Linked DNA regions of Homo sapiens: region 1 is linked to region 2. The links come from fine-mapping of genetic effects on gene expression. A gene starts in region 2. The other region holds a variant in brackets. All regions are shown on one strand. Distances are between the middles of the regions.

Region 1 (5,357 bases), 210 kb before region 2:
TCGCTTGCTCTCGGCGCCTCCTCGGCGTCCGCTCTGGCCACGCTGGAGGAGCCCTTCAGCCAGCTGCTGCGCTGTGGGGGCCTCTCTCTGGGGCTGGCCGAGGCCAGAGCCGGCTCCCTCTGCTCGCAGAGAGGTGTGGAGGGAGAGGCGTGGGCGGGAGCCGGTGCTGTGGCTGGCGCCTGCTGGGCTTGATCTGGGACGAGCTTCCTCTGGGCTGCCGGAGTGCCCGGGCTAGGTGCCGTGAAGTCCCACCATTGAGAGGTGAAGCCGGCTGGGCTTCTGGGTCGGGTGGGGACTTGGAGAACTTTTCTGTCTAGCTAAAGGTTTGTAAACACACCAATCAGCAGTCTGTGTCTAGCTAAAGGTTTGTAAACGCACCAATCAGCACTGTGTGTCTAGCTCAAGGTTTGTAAACGCACCAGTCAGCAGCACGTGTGTCTAGCTCAAGGTTTGTAAACGCACCAGTCAGCAGCACCCGTGTCTAGCTCAAGGTTTGTAAACGCACCAATCAGTGCTCTGTGTCTAGCTAATCTAGTGGGGACTTGGAGAACTTTTGTGTCTAGCTAAAGTATTGTAAATGCACCAATCAGCACTCTGTGTTTAGCTGAAGGTTTGTAAACATACTAATCAGCACCCTGTCAAAACGGACCAATCAGCTCTGTGTAAAATGGACCAATCGGTGGGAGGTGGGTGGAGCCAGATAAGGGAATAAAAGCAGGCCACCCAAGCCAGCAGCGGCAACACGCTGGGGTCCCCTTCCATGCTGTGGAAGCTTTGTTCTTTTGCTCTTCGCACTAAATCTTGCTGGTGCTCACTCTTTGGGTCCGCGCCGCCTTTATGAGCTGTGACACTCACCGAGAAGGTCTGCAGCTTCACTCCTGAAGCCAGCGAGACCATGAACCCACTGGGAGGGAAGAACAACTCCTGACGGGAGGAAGGAACAACTCTGGACATGCTATCTTCATGAACCGTAACACTCACCGCGAAGGTCTGCAGCTTCACTCCTGAAGCCAGGAAGACCACGAACCCACCGGAGGGAACGAACAACTCCAGATGCACTGCCTTTAAGAACTGTAATACTAACCACGAAGGTCTGCAGCTTCACTCCTGAGGCCAGCGAGACCACGAACCCACCGGAAGGAATGAACAACTCCAGACGCACCGTCTTTAAGAGCTGTAACACTAACCACGAAGGTCTGCAGTTTCACTCCTGAAGCCAGGAAGACCACGAACCCACCGGCAGGAACGAACAACTCCAGATGCACTGCCTTTAAGAGCTGTAACACTAACCACAAAGGTCTGCAGCTTCACTCCTGAGGCCAGCGAGACCACAAACCCACCGGAAGGAATGAACAACTCCAGACGCACCATCTTTAAGAGCTGTAACACTAACCACGAAGGTCTGCAGTTTCACTCCTGAAGTCAGCAAGACCACGAGCCCACCAGAAGGAACAAACTCCGGACACACCATCTTTAAGAGCTGTAACACTCACCGCGAGGGTCCGCGGCTTCGTTCTTGAAGTCAGCAAGACCAAGAACCCACCAATTCTGGACACAGTGGCGTACCGGGAGGCAGAGGTTGCAGTTAGCCGAGATCATGCCACTGCTCTGTAGCCTGGTGACAGAGTAAGACTCTGTCTCAAAAAAAAAATGCTAAGTGAAAGAAGCTGGAGACATACTGTATGATTCTAATGGCATTGGTGGCTTGTCTGGAGTGGCTGCTGCCATGACGCTGGTTGCAGCTGGGGAGGCTTGGGGCTGCATGGTCCATGGAGCTGGTGGGAACTGGGAACAGGCAGGAGCTGCACCCCCTTCCAAGTTGGAGGGGTGGGAGCCTGGCCCTCCTGGGCACAGCTGCAGCTGCCTAGCTGTGGCTATGGACCCAGACATCCCTGCTCTCTCGGGGACTCAGGAAGCCCCCCTTCCCCTGCAGACTCAGAAGCAGGCCAGCCTCCTCCCGCTACCTGGCCTCTCCCTGCTCCTGGTCCCCACGTCAATTTTGGAACAAAGTTGAGGCTGAGCCCAGGCACTGTTGCAACCTGGCCAGGTGTACATGCACTTGGGGCAAAACTGACATGCCAGCCCCCTGCCTTCTCGGCCGCCTTCGGACTTTGGGTGCCGACGAGCGAGCACAGGAGGGAGCCCGAGGAGGGGCTGAGGGCAGCTTGGTGCAGGCCTGCAGGAGCCCCTCAGCACAAATAGCCTGGGCACCATGGACGGCAGGTTGATGGTAGCAGGAGGCAGACAGGCTCCTGGGTGAAAAGGGGCAGGTCCCTGATGAAGCCCCATGTTCAAGTCAGGGACAGCCTGAAGCCTGGGGGCTGGGCTGCCAGTTCCATGGACCAGAGTAAGAGTTTATGGTGCTTTTTCTGGGCCTGCCCATGGCCACCCGTGAACCATTCAGCACATACTTTCTCCCCTCTGAAGCCCATAAAAACCCTGGACTCAGCCAGACTCAGGCAAACAACAGGACAGCCTGCCTGCAGATAGGATAGGAGCTAACCAGTCCGAGTCTCCTCTCTGCTGAGACCTGAACAGTCGTCAAGACAACCCGTATGCGGAAAGGAGCTACCCACTGTGGGTCTCCCAAGAGCTGTTCTGTCGCACAGTGAAGCTCCTCTCCACCTCGCTCACTCTCCAGTTGTTCACGTACCTCATTCTACCTGGACATGTGACAGGAACTTGGGACCTGCTGAATGGCGGGACTAAATGAGCTGCAACACAAACAGGGCTGAAACACACACTCCCCCCGACCAC[C/T]GCCCCCCACCACTCACCACGTTGCAGGTAATGAAAAGGAGAGAAGAGCTGCAGCACTTTGGGGAGCCCAGACCTAGGGTCTCCTCGAGCCAGGGCTGTGACACCCTCTTTGGGGTTCTGTGGTTCCTGGCATCTCCAAGCTTCTGGATGCCACTGCATTCCCCTCATCCAGATGCAGGTGCCCACAGTGGAAGCCACATGCAGTACATCTGGTCAAGCCGCAGCCTCGCACAGAGCTGGCACCTGGAGCAGCCTGCCCCGCTGCAGCTGGCATGCCTGGCTATGCACGGTGGCCTGACCCTGCGCTTGCTTGCCCACACACCCCTTGCCACTTTGCACCTGGCTTGCACTTGGCAGGTGTGGGATCTGGGCCGGTAGTGTGAGCTGAGAGCAGTCTGCCGGCCTGAGTGGGCGGAACAATCCCAGTGGGCATGAGCAATACTCAGGCAGAAGGCACCACTGGCCACAGCGGTTTCTGGCTGGTGAAGCGACACCCCAAGGATCTCATGACAATTCCGTTTATGTGAAGTGTCCAGAAGAAGTGAATCTGTAGAGATAGAAAGTAGATTAGTGGTTGCCAAGGGCTAGGGGATGACAGCCAAGAGGTATGGAATTTCTTTTAGCATAATGAAAATATTCTAAAATTGACTGTGGTGAAGGTTGCACATATCTGTGAATATACTAAAAATAACCTAAAATCATATACTTTAATTGGGTGAATTGTATGTAATGTGAATTCTATCTCAATGAAGCTGTTAAAAACAGGAGTGACTAGGATTTTTCAGAAGAGAACATTCCAAGGTGAGAGTCAGAAGGCTGCATGCCCGCAGAGGGCCTTGGTGCGGGTGTGTTCTTGGGGGCTGTGGCAAGGCGATGAGTCCCTGATCAGTTTCTTTTCTTTCTTCCTCTTTTTTTTTTTGAGACAGGTTCTCAATCTATCACCCAGGCTAGGGGGCAGTGGCATGATATCTGCTCACTGTATCTTTGACCTCCTGGGCTCAAGCGATCCTCCTGCCTCAGCCTCCCAAGTAGCTGGAACAATAGGTGCATGTCACCATGCCCAGCTAATTTTTGTAATTTTTGTAGAGGCAGGATTTCACCCTGTTACCCAGACTGGTTTTGAACTCTTGGGCTCAAGTGATCCTCCCGCTTCTGCCTCCCAAAGTGCTGGGATTACAGGCATGAACCACTGTGCCTGGCCCCTGATCAGCGTCAAATTTCAGGTGGTAGCGATGCTACACTGGTCTCCGTGCAGAAGACTTGAGTTAAACATTGACTTAATCGCTGCCTGTGTGATTGAGCACAGATAAGTCAGTTAAGCACTCGAGCTCTTATCTGCAGATAAGATGCTTGTCCTGCTTATTTGTTCAAGGTTGTTGTGAAGCTGAAGAATGGCTGAGTCTCAGTGGGTTCTGTAAATTACTGTTATTTGTGTATAATAGGAGTTTTAAAAATTAATATCAACACTAAGAGGCTGATGAACCAGCCTCTTGCAGGCTGGTCTAGGCGCACACAGAGCACAGTTGATGGTGGTGTAGACAGATGTGAGGCGTGGGAGCACTGCTGTCTCCCCAGCTCCTGGCAGCCAGGGTGCTGGACACAGGGTCCAGAACCCCTTGTCTGGCCAACAGTGTTTGAGTCTATTTTCCTTTCTTGCCATGCTCCTTTCATCTTTCCTGCCTTTTCTCTTGATTATTACTTTAAACTACTAGAGGCCCCAACACTATCCTGACAGAGTGGCTGATGCTTCCTTCATGGGTTGAGTTTACTGTTAGCCTTGAGATACTCCTAGTGGTTTTCTGTTACGGTCCCTTCAAGCATTCCCTGGGATCACAGAGGTGGCCAGCATGTTCCTCCTGCCACTCAGAGCTGTGCTGAAGCCTCTGCAGTGTAAGTTTCCCCGGAATCTGACTGCCTGCTGCATGTGTGGCTGATAAAGGGGAGCAGCTTCTGAAACTCTAGGTGCTGTTTCTATTTAATTGCGGCTGTGTTGACCTTTTATTTTCTATTCAGAATTCAGGCGTGCTGTGGAAATTCCCACATGTGGGAGGGGGTAGTGCTGTGACGTCCCTGAGACCCTCGTTTACAGCATGTGCCGGAATCACAGACGGCGTCCAGGAACAGTGTGGGGCTTTCTGCCCAAGGCCACTGGGGCCCAGGATGAGCCTCACTTGGGCGGAGCCTGTCTCCATTGCTCTGGCAGGGCTCTCACACCTGGTCTTGTGTTTGCCAGGCCCACCCACACTCATCTCGCCCCTGTCTTTACTGTTGCCTGTATGTGCCAGCCACTTGCCAGTCAGATACCCCCGACAGGGAGGAGACAGACCAGGCCTCTGGTGGGGGACACGGGAGTGAGTTGTGCTAACATCCTGTGGACAGCAGAGGTGGCCGTGTGCCTGGGGTCGTAGGGAGAACCCTAGGGTGGCTGGCCGGGAGGGGCGTGGAGTTCAGGTAGGCTTTCTGGAGAAGGGGTGTCTTGTCTGGAAAGGAGGAGTATCAGCAGCTGAGCCTTGGGCTATTCACCAGGCACAGAAAGAGCCTCAGGCGGGAGGGATGTGTGGCCGGAGCCGGCAGCTCTGTGACTGGAGTGTTGGCGAGAG
Region 2 (5,357 bases):
TATGCATAGAATTAAAATAAGGCCCAGAAGTGGAATCCCACCCTGGGTCACACAGAAGCTGTTTGGGTTCCAGAGCCCCACTTATTAGTACAGCCAACTCCCCAGGAACGCCCCCGTCAAAAGAACAGTGAATAGGCTGCCCAGAGAGGAGGGGCTAGGCGGGGAGGGGTCCTGACCTGGCCCCGGGCCTCACTCAGCGAACCCTGACAGCTCTGGGTAAAGGTGCTGACCAAACCTCGGAGGTCCCCGCAGCCCTGACGCAGGCTGGCCATCCGTGCCCGAAGTCCTGGAGAGGGAAGTCTGTTGGAAGGGAAGGCCCAGCCTCCAGGGCCTCCCATGAGCCCCAACCCCAACCCTTACCTGCCAGCTGCCCATGCATCTGCTGTAGCTCACGCCTGCAGTTCTGCTCCGTCTCCTGCTGGAGCTGCTGGAGGGCCCCTTGAAGGCCCTGCAGCTGCACCTCCTGCACCCCCAGCTGCCCCGCCCAACCCCACCCCTGTCACTGAGGAAACAGGCACTTACCAGGCCCTGCCTCAGATAAGCCCCTCCCAAAACCCCAGCCCGCCTCACCCCTGAGCCATGGATCCCTGGGCCCCATGCCCACCTGGGCTCGGAGGGCTTCTGTGGTGTCTTGGGCCTCCTGAAGCCGGCCCTGGAGCTCTAGCAATGCCTCTGCCTCCTCCTGCGGGAGGGTGGGGGCCAGGAGGGACTCAGAGAGGGACGGTCTGTGGTACCATTTCACAGATGGGAAAGTCAAGTCAAGAGGTGGGCAGAGCTGGCTGTGAACCCATGCCTCCCAGCTCCACGCAGACCTCCTTCCCACAGTCCCTCTGCTCTCCTGGGGTCAGCCACTCAGAGGGGCCACGGAGAGGGGGGTCTTCCCATTGGCATCAGCCTCCCTGATGGGGCTGCCCTACACAGACCATCCCGGGAGGTCCTGAGGAGGCTCGGGCCCTGTGGCTGCATGCCAGGTGTGCAAGAGCCCCAGGCTGCAGGAACGGCTGCAGCTCGGGAGCAGAGTACCTGCGGAGCCCTGATGGGGGGCCCGGGGCCCCAGTGCAGCAGGAGGTCCCGCATGAGACTCAGGCTCTGCTTCAGGGCCTCGTTCTCCAGAGTCAGATGCTGAACCCTTTTCTCTGAGTCCGTCGCCCCCTGGTGGAGAGGAAACCTCGGCACTCACCTGAAGCACCCCCTCCATGCCCGGCCCTGCCAGGTCTCCCTGCAGCCTCACCACGCCCAGGCGCAGTCGACCCAACTCCTCCTCCTGCTGTTCCAGCTGCTGCTTCAGCTCCTCCAGCTGGGGAGAAGTAAGAGAGACAGGGTGGACCTCCTTTTTCTGGCGTCCCAGCCGGCAATCCCTTCTGGCTCCAGGGACCTCACCTGTCCCAGGATGAGCTGCTCCAGCCGCTGCCACGCCCTCTGATCCTCCTCCAACTGGAGGGGCTGCTGTCCCTGGGTCTCATCCCCCAGTGGCTCGCCTGGGACTGCGGTGAAGTGGGAAGGGCTTTCTTCTTGGGATGTGGATCCTGGAGTAGGGTGGGCCCAGTTAGCACTGAAGAGGTCTCTAGTCCAAATCTTCCGGAACATGACCCCGAACTCCAGGCCGCCCAGGTTCTACCGGGATTTGCTCCCTCCAGAGTTCTTCTTCAACTTACTGTCCTTTACTCACCATCTGGAGAGGGGGGCCGGACCCGAGGGGCTGGCTGAGTCCCCTGGAGCAGGGCCTGCCTCCCCCTGGGGCTTCGAAGCCATGCCAGAAGGGCCAAGAGCTGACTGGTCACTGTCAACAGTGAGGGGACCTCGCCAGACTGCGAAGGAGACAAGAATCCGAGCAGGGCTGTGAAAGCCAGGAAGGCCGGGGCAGGTGGTACCTGCCAGCAGCCCCCTCCGCCGCGCTCACCTGGCCCAGGTCCGCCGGGCCCCCGCAGCTCTCTTCCGCCCCCAGCTGGACGGAGAGGAACTCGGCGAGGCGCAGTAGGGCCTCTTCCAGGGACACCGCGGCCGCGCGGCCCTCGGCTGCGCCTTCCGACCCATCCTCAGGCTCGGAGCTGGCTGCCGGTCAGGGAGGAGGGCGGGAGACATTTCGGGTCACGTGCTTGAGCCAGGCCTCCGCCCCTCCCTGGGAGGTCCCGGCACCGCCCTCGCACCGCGGGACTCCCAGCCCGCACCTACCGGCCAGGCCGGTCAGCTCGGTCCACAGCTCTGGCGCGGGCAGGTCTGGGCGCCGGCGACCCCGGGGCTTGCGGGCTCTCTAGGGAGGGGGCAGGGGCGCCCCTGAGGAGGGGGGCAGGCAGCCTGCTGGCCCCTTCCCTCCGCGAACCGGGCCGGAGGATTGGGGCCGAAGTCTACGCTTCCAGCATCGGGGCCGAGCCGAGGGTCCTCGGCACGGCCCCGTCGCCCCGCGCCCCGTGCCCGCCCCCGCCCCGGGAACCTCGGCGTGGGGGTGGGGCAGGCGGCGGGAGACGACGGGCTGCACGGCCAGCCCCGCTCACCTGGGCGGGGTCCCCGGGCTCCGCGGCCGCCGCGGCGCCACCATCCCTGCGGAAGAGGCTGTAGAAGATGTAGATGAGCAACGAGTAAAAGGCGTACATGGGAGCGCGGGGCGGCAGAGGGCCCCGCTTCGCGCCGCCCCGCGTCCCCGCGCCCAGACTCGGCGCCCGCCCGCCGCAGTGCCGGTGCGCATGCTCGCGACGGCCGCCCCCACGGCCCGGCTCCCACGGCTGGAAGGCGAGCGCGGGGACGGGGGTACTAGAAACAGGTGCCCGCGGCCGCACCTGGAGACCCGCCGTTTCTCACGGCGCCGCCCGGCGCGCCCCAACCCCTACACCGCGGACACCGGGCTGAGAGCGCCCACGGCTCCCGCGACCCTCCTCTCGGAATCCCTCCCACCCTCCGCGTAGTCCCCCACCGCTCCGGTTTCGCGGAGCCTTCAACACGCCGGGGTTCTCCTTCCTCTCCCTACAGCCCCGCCCATCTCAGCCCCGCCCATCTCAGCCCCGCCCAGACCCCCCCTCCTCGCAGCCCCGCCCAAACCCCGTTCCTTGCAGCCTCGCCCAGGCTCCTCCCCTCTCGGTCCCTCTCAGTCTCGCCCAGACCCCTCTCCTCGCAGCCCCGCCCAGGCCCCGCCCCTCGCAGCCACGCCCAGACCCCCCCATCGCATCCTCGCCCAGGCCCCGCCCCACCCAGGCCCCCTCCCTCTCAGACCCGCCGCTCTCAGCCCCGCCTAAACCTTATCTCCCTCAGCCCCGCCCAGACCCCCCGCCCCTCGCAGCCCCGCCCAGACCCCGCCCCTCGCAGCCCCGCCCCGGCCCTTCTCCCCTCATCACGCTCCTTCCAAACCACTATGCCCACGCACGCACCCACCCAAACAGAGCGTTTTCTGGTCCCCGAGCTCCTCCCGACCCCACCCGCTCCTACGGCCTCCAACCGGCCCCCCCCAGGTCTCGACCCTCTCCCCCAGGCCTCGACCCTCCCCCCCCAGCCGCTCTAGCCCCGCCCGGCCGCTCTAGCCTCCGCTCCTCTCGCTGGTGGAGGTTCCCGACCGCGCTCGCTCCCGCAACTGGGGGCACGGCAGAGGAGGCAGGGCCGACGGCGGTGGGCGGTGCGTTGCGCAGGCTCGGGCCTCCCGCTCGCCGCTGCGTTGGGACCGCGCAGCCCGGTAACTGCGCACGGCTGGCCTCCCGGAGTCCTGCGCCGTCGCTCCTCCTGGACCCGGGTTCCCAGGACAACGCCTCCCGGAACGCAGGGAGCAGGCCGAGGCCGCCGCGTGGGCCTGCAGCGCCTCGCCGCTCTCTCTTCCCCAGGCCCGCACTCCCACTTGGGCTCCAGGGCCCCAGGGCTGACGTTCCCCCCAGCTTAGACCCTGAGTCGTTTTCCCCCGTTTCCCGGCTGAATTAGGTTCTTCTTCTCCACAGGTGTGTGCAGTGGCCTCAGGGATCCGGAAAGTCTAGGACTGAACTTCTCCTAACATCCAGTAATGGGGACCTGGAACCTGGGCTTACTAGAGTGCCGCGCGTAGGGCTCCAGGTCGCTGGCTTCTGCGCTTCCTTCCTCTCCAAAGTTGAGTATCTCCTATCTGTGTCCTCGTACATACTGCCGCCTGAGGTGCCATGGCCCCCAAGCCGGGGGCCGAGTGGAGCACAGCCCTGTCCCATCTGGTGCTGGGAGTGGTGTCTCTGCACGCAGCCGTGAGCACAGCCGAGGTGAGTACACTGGGGCTGAGCAGGGGCGCATCCCCATACCTCCCAAACCCCAAGGACCTAGTTTCCTGAATTAGAGAGAGGTTGGTGGGAAGTGCGTCTAAGACCAGGTCTCCATGGAAGCCCCAAACCCTTTCCTGTTTAAAAGGGTGACCCCGGCCTCTTTTTCCCACGTGTTCTCCCTTCCCTGTGTTGACAGGCAAGTCGAGGGGCTGCTGCTGGCTTCCTGCTCCAGGTCTTGGCTGCCACCACCACGCTGGCCCCAGGGCTGAGCACACACGAAGACTGCCTTGCTGGAGCCTGGGTGGCCACCGTCATCGGCCTTCCCCTTCTGGCCTTCGATTTCCACTGGGTGAATGGGGACCGCTCCTCTGCCAACCTGCTCCTGGGAGGAGGCATGGTGCTGGCAGTGGCTGGCGGCCACCTCGGCCCTGAGGGCCGCTCTGTGGCTGGTCAGGCAATGCTGTTGGTGGTCGCAGTGACCATCCTCATTGTAGCTGTCTTCACGGCCAACACTTATGGGATGTGGGGGGGGGCGATGCTGGGTGTGGCAGGCCTCCTGAGCCGGCTGGAGGAGGACAGGCTGCTGCTGCTACCGAAGGAGGATGTCTGTCGCTGGGCCTTGGCTGTAGGCAGCTGGGCTTACTGCCGGGCCCTGCATACACAGCGCCTCCAGTGGGAGTGACAGTTGGATACAGCCAGGCAGGGTTTCTGCCCTGCCGAACACTTTCCCTCCCACCTGCCTGCTCCTGGCGCCTTCTCCCTAGGGGTAGACTCTTCTGCCTACTGAAGTGGGTTTGCTGCACATTGACTGGTCAGGGGCAGAGTCTGGGTGCTGTCCTTTGGCCACGTGTGGGGACTTGTCTAGACCAGAATGAAAGGGACAGGGTCCCAGACACGTTTGGGGGTCCTGATTCTGGGCTGGACACGGTTGTGGATCCAGAGAAGAGGCCTAGTCTCCAATAAATCTTAGGAATTTTGCAGGAATATGAAAACTGCCCATTTTTGAGAGGGATTGAGGGATCTTTCAGTGAGCTTCCTAAGGCCCCTCAGGACAGTAGTCAGTTACCCTGACAGGGTATGTGCTGGAACTAGGATGGGGTCTCATGCAGCCCGGCCTCCTTTTGACTATTGTCAGGAAGACCCCTGGGCTGAGAA

The links. PIP is the estimated chance that this variant, and not a neighbour inherited with it, causes the effect. A credible set is the group of variants that fine-mapping cannot tell apart.
Region 1: its variant is the best candidate, but not a certain one, in a credible set for the expression of KIFC2 in whole blood (TOPMed, PIP 0.51).

Annotation. Positions count from the first base shown.
Region 1 is chr8:144,671,536-144,676,892 of GRCh38, reverse strand. All of the region lies in intron 1 of ARHGAP39 (Rho GTPase activating protein 39), which reads left to right. Among named protein-coding and RNA genes, the nearest start is that of ARHGAP39, 12 kb to the left of the region's middle. RefSeq lists an enhancer at 2,528-3,027. The variant C/T (reference allele first, on the strand shown) is at 2,758.
Region 2 is chr8:144,463,654-144,469,010 of GRCh38, reverse strand. It overlaps KIFC2 (kinesin family member C2), which reads right to left and starts at 2,674. Exons shown (of 18, transcript NM_001369769.2): 1 at 2,493-2,674; 2 at 2,173-2,251; 3 at 1,901-2,052; 4 at 1,670-1,808; 5 at 1,381-1,526; 6 at 1,232-1,297; 7 at 1,024-1,152; 8 at 605-682; 9 at 361-475; 10 at 177-286. The coding sequence starts at 2,591. TMEM276-ZFTRAF1 (TMEM276-ZFTRAF1 readthrough) reads left to right here and starts at 3,310. Exons shown (of 5, transcript NM_001408018.1): 1 at 3,310-3,440; 2 at 3,915-4,202. The coding sequence starts at 4,110. TMEM276 (transmembrane protein 276) reads left to right here and starts at 3,519. Exons shown (of 3, transcript NM_032687.4): 1 at 3,519-3,658; 2 at 3,915-4,202; 3 at 4,399-5,186. The coding sequence starts at 4,110. The coding sequence ends at 4,884. RefSeq lists enhancers at 1,681-1,780, 1,471-2,307, 4,506-5,119, 5,214-5,357 and silencers at 1,951-2,010, 2,081-2,390, 2,441-3,000, 3,061-3,190, 3,261-3,520 and 1 more.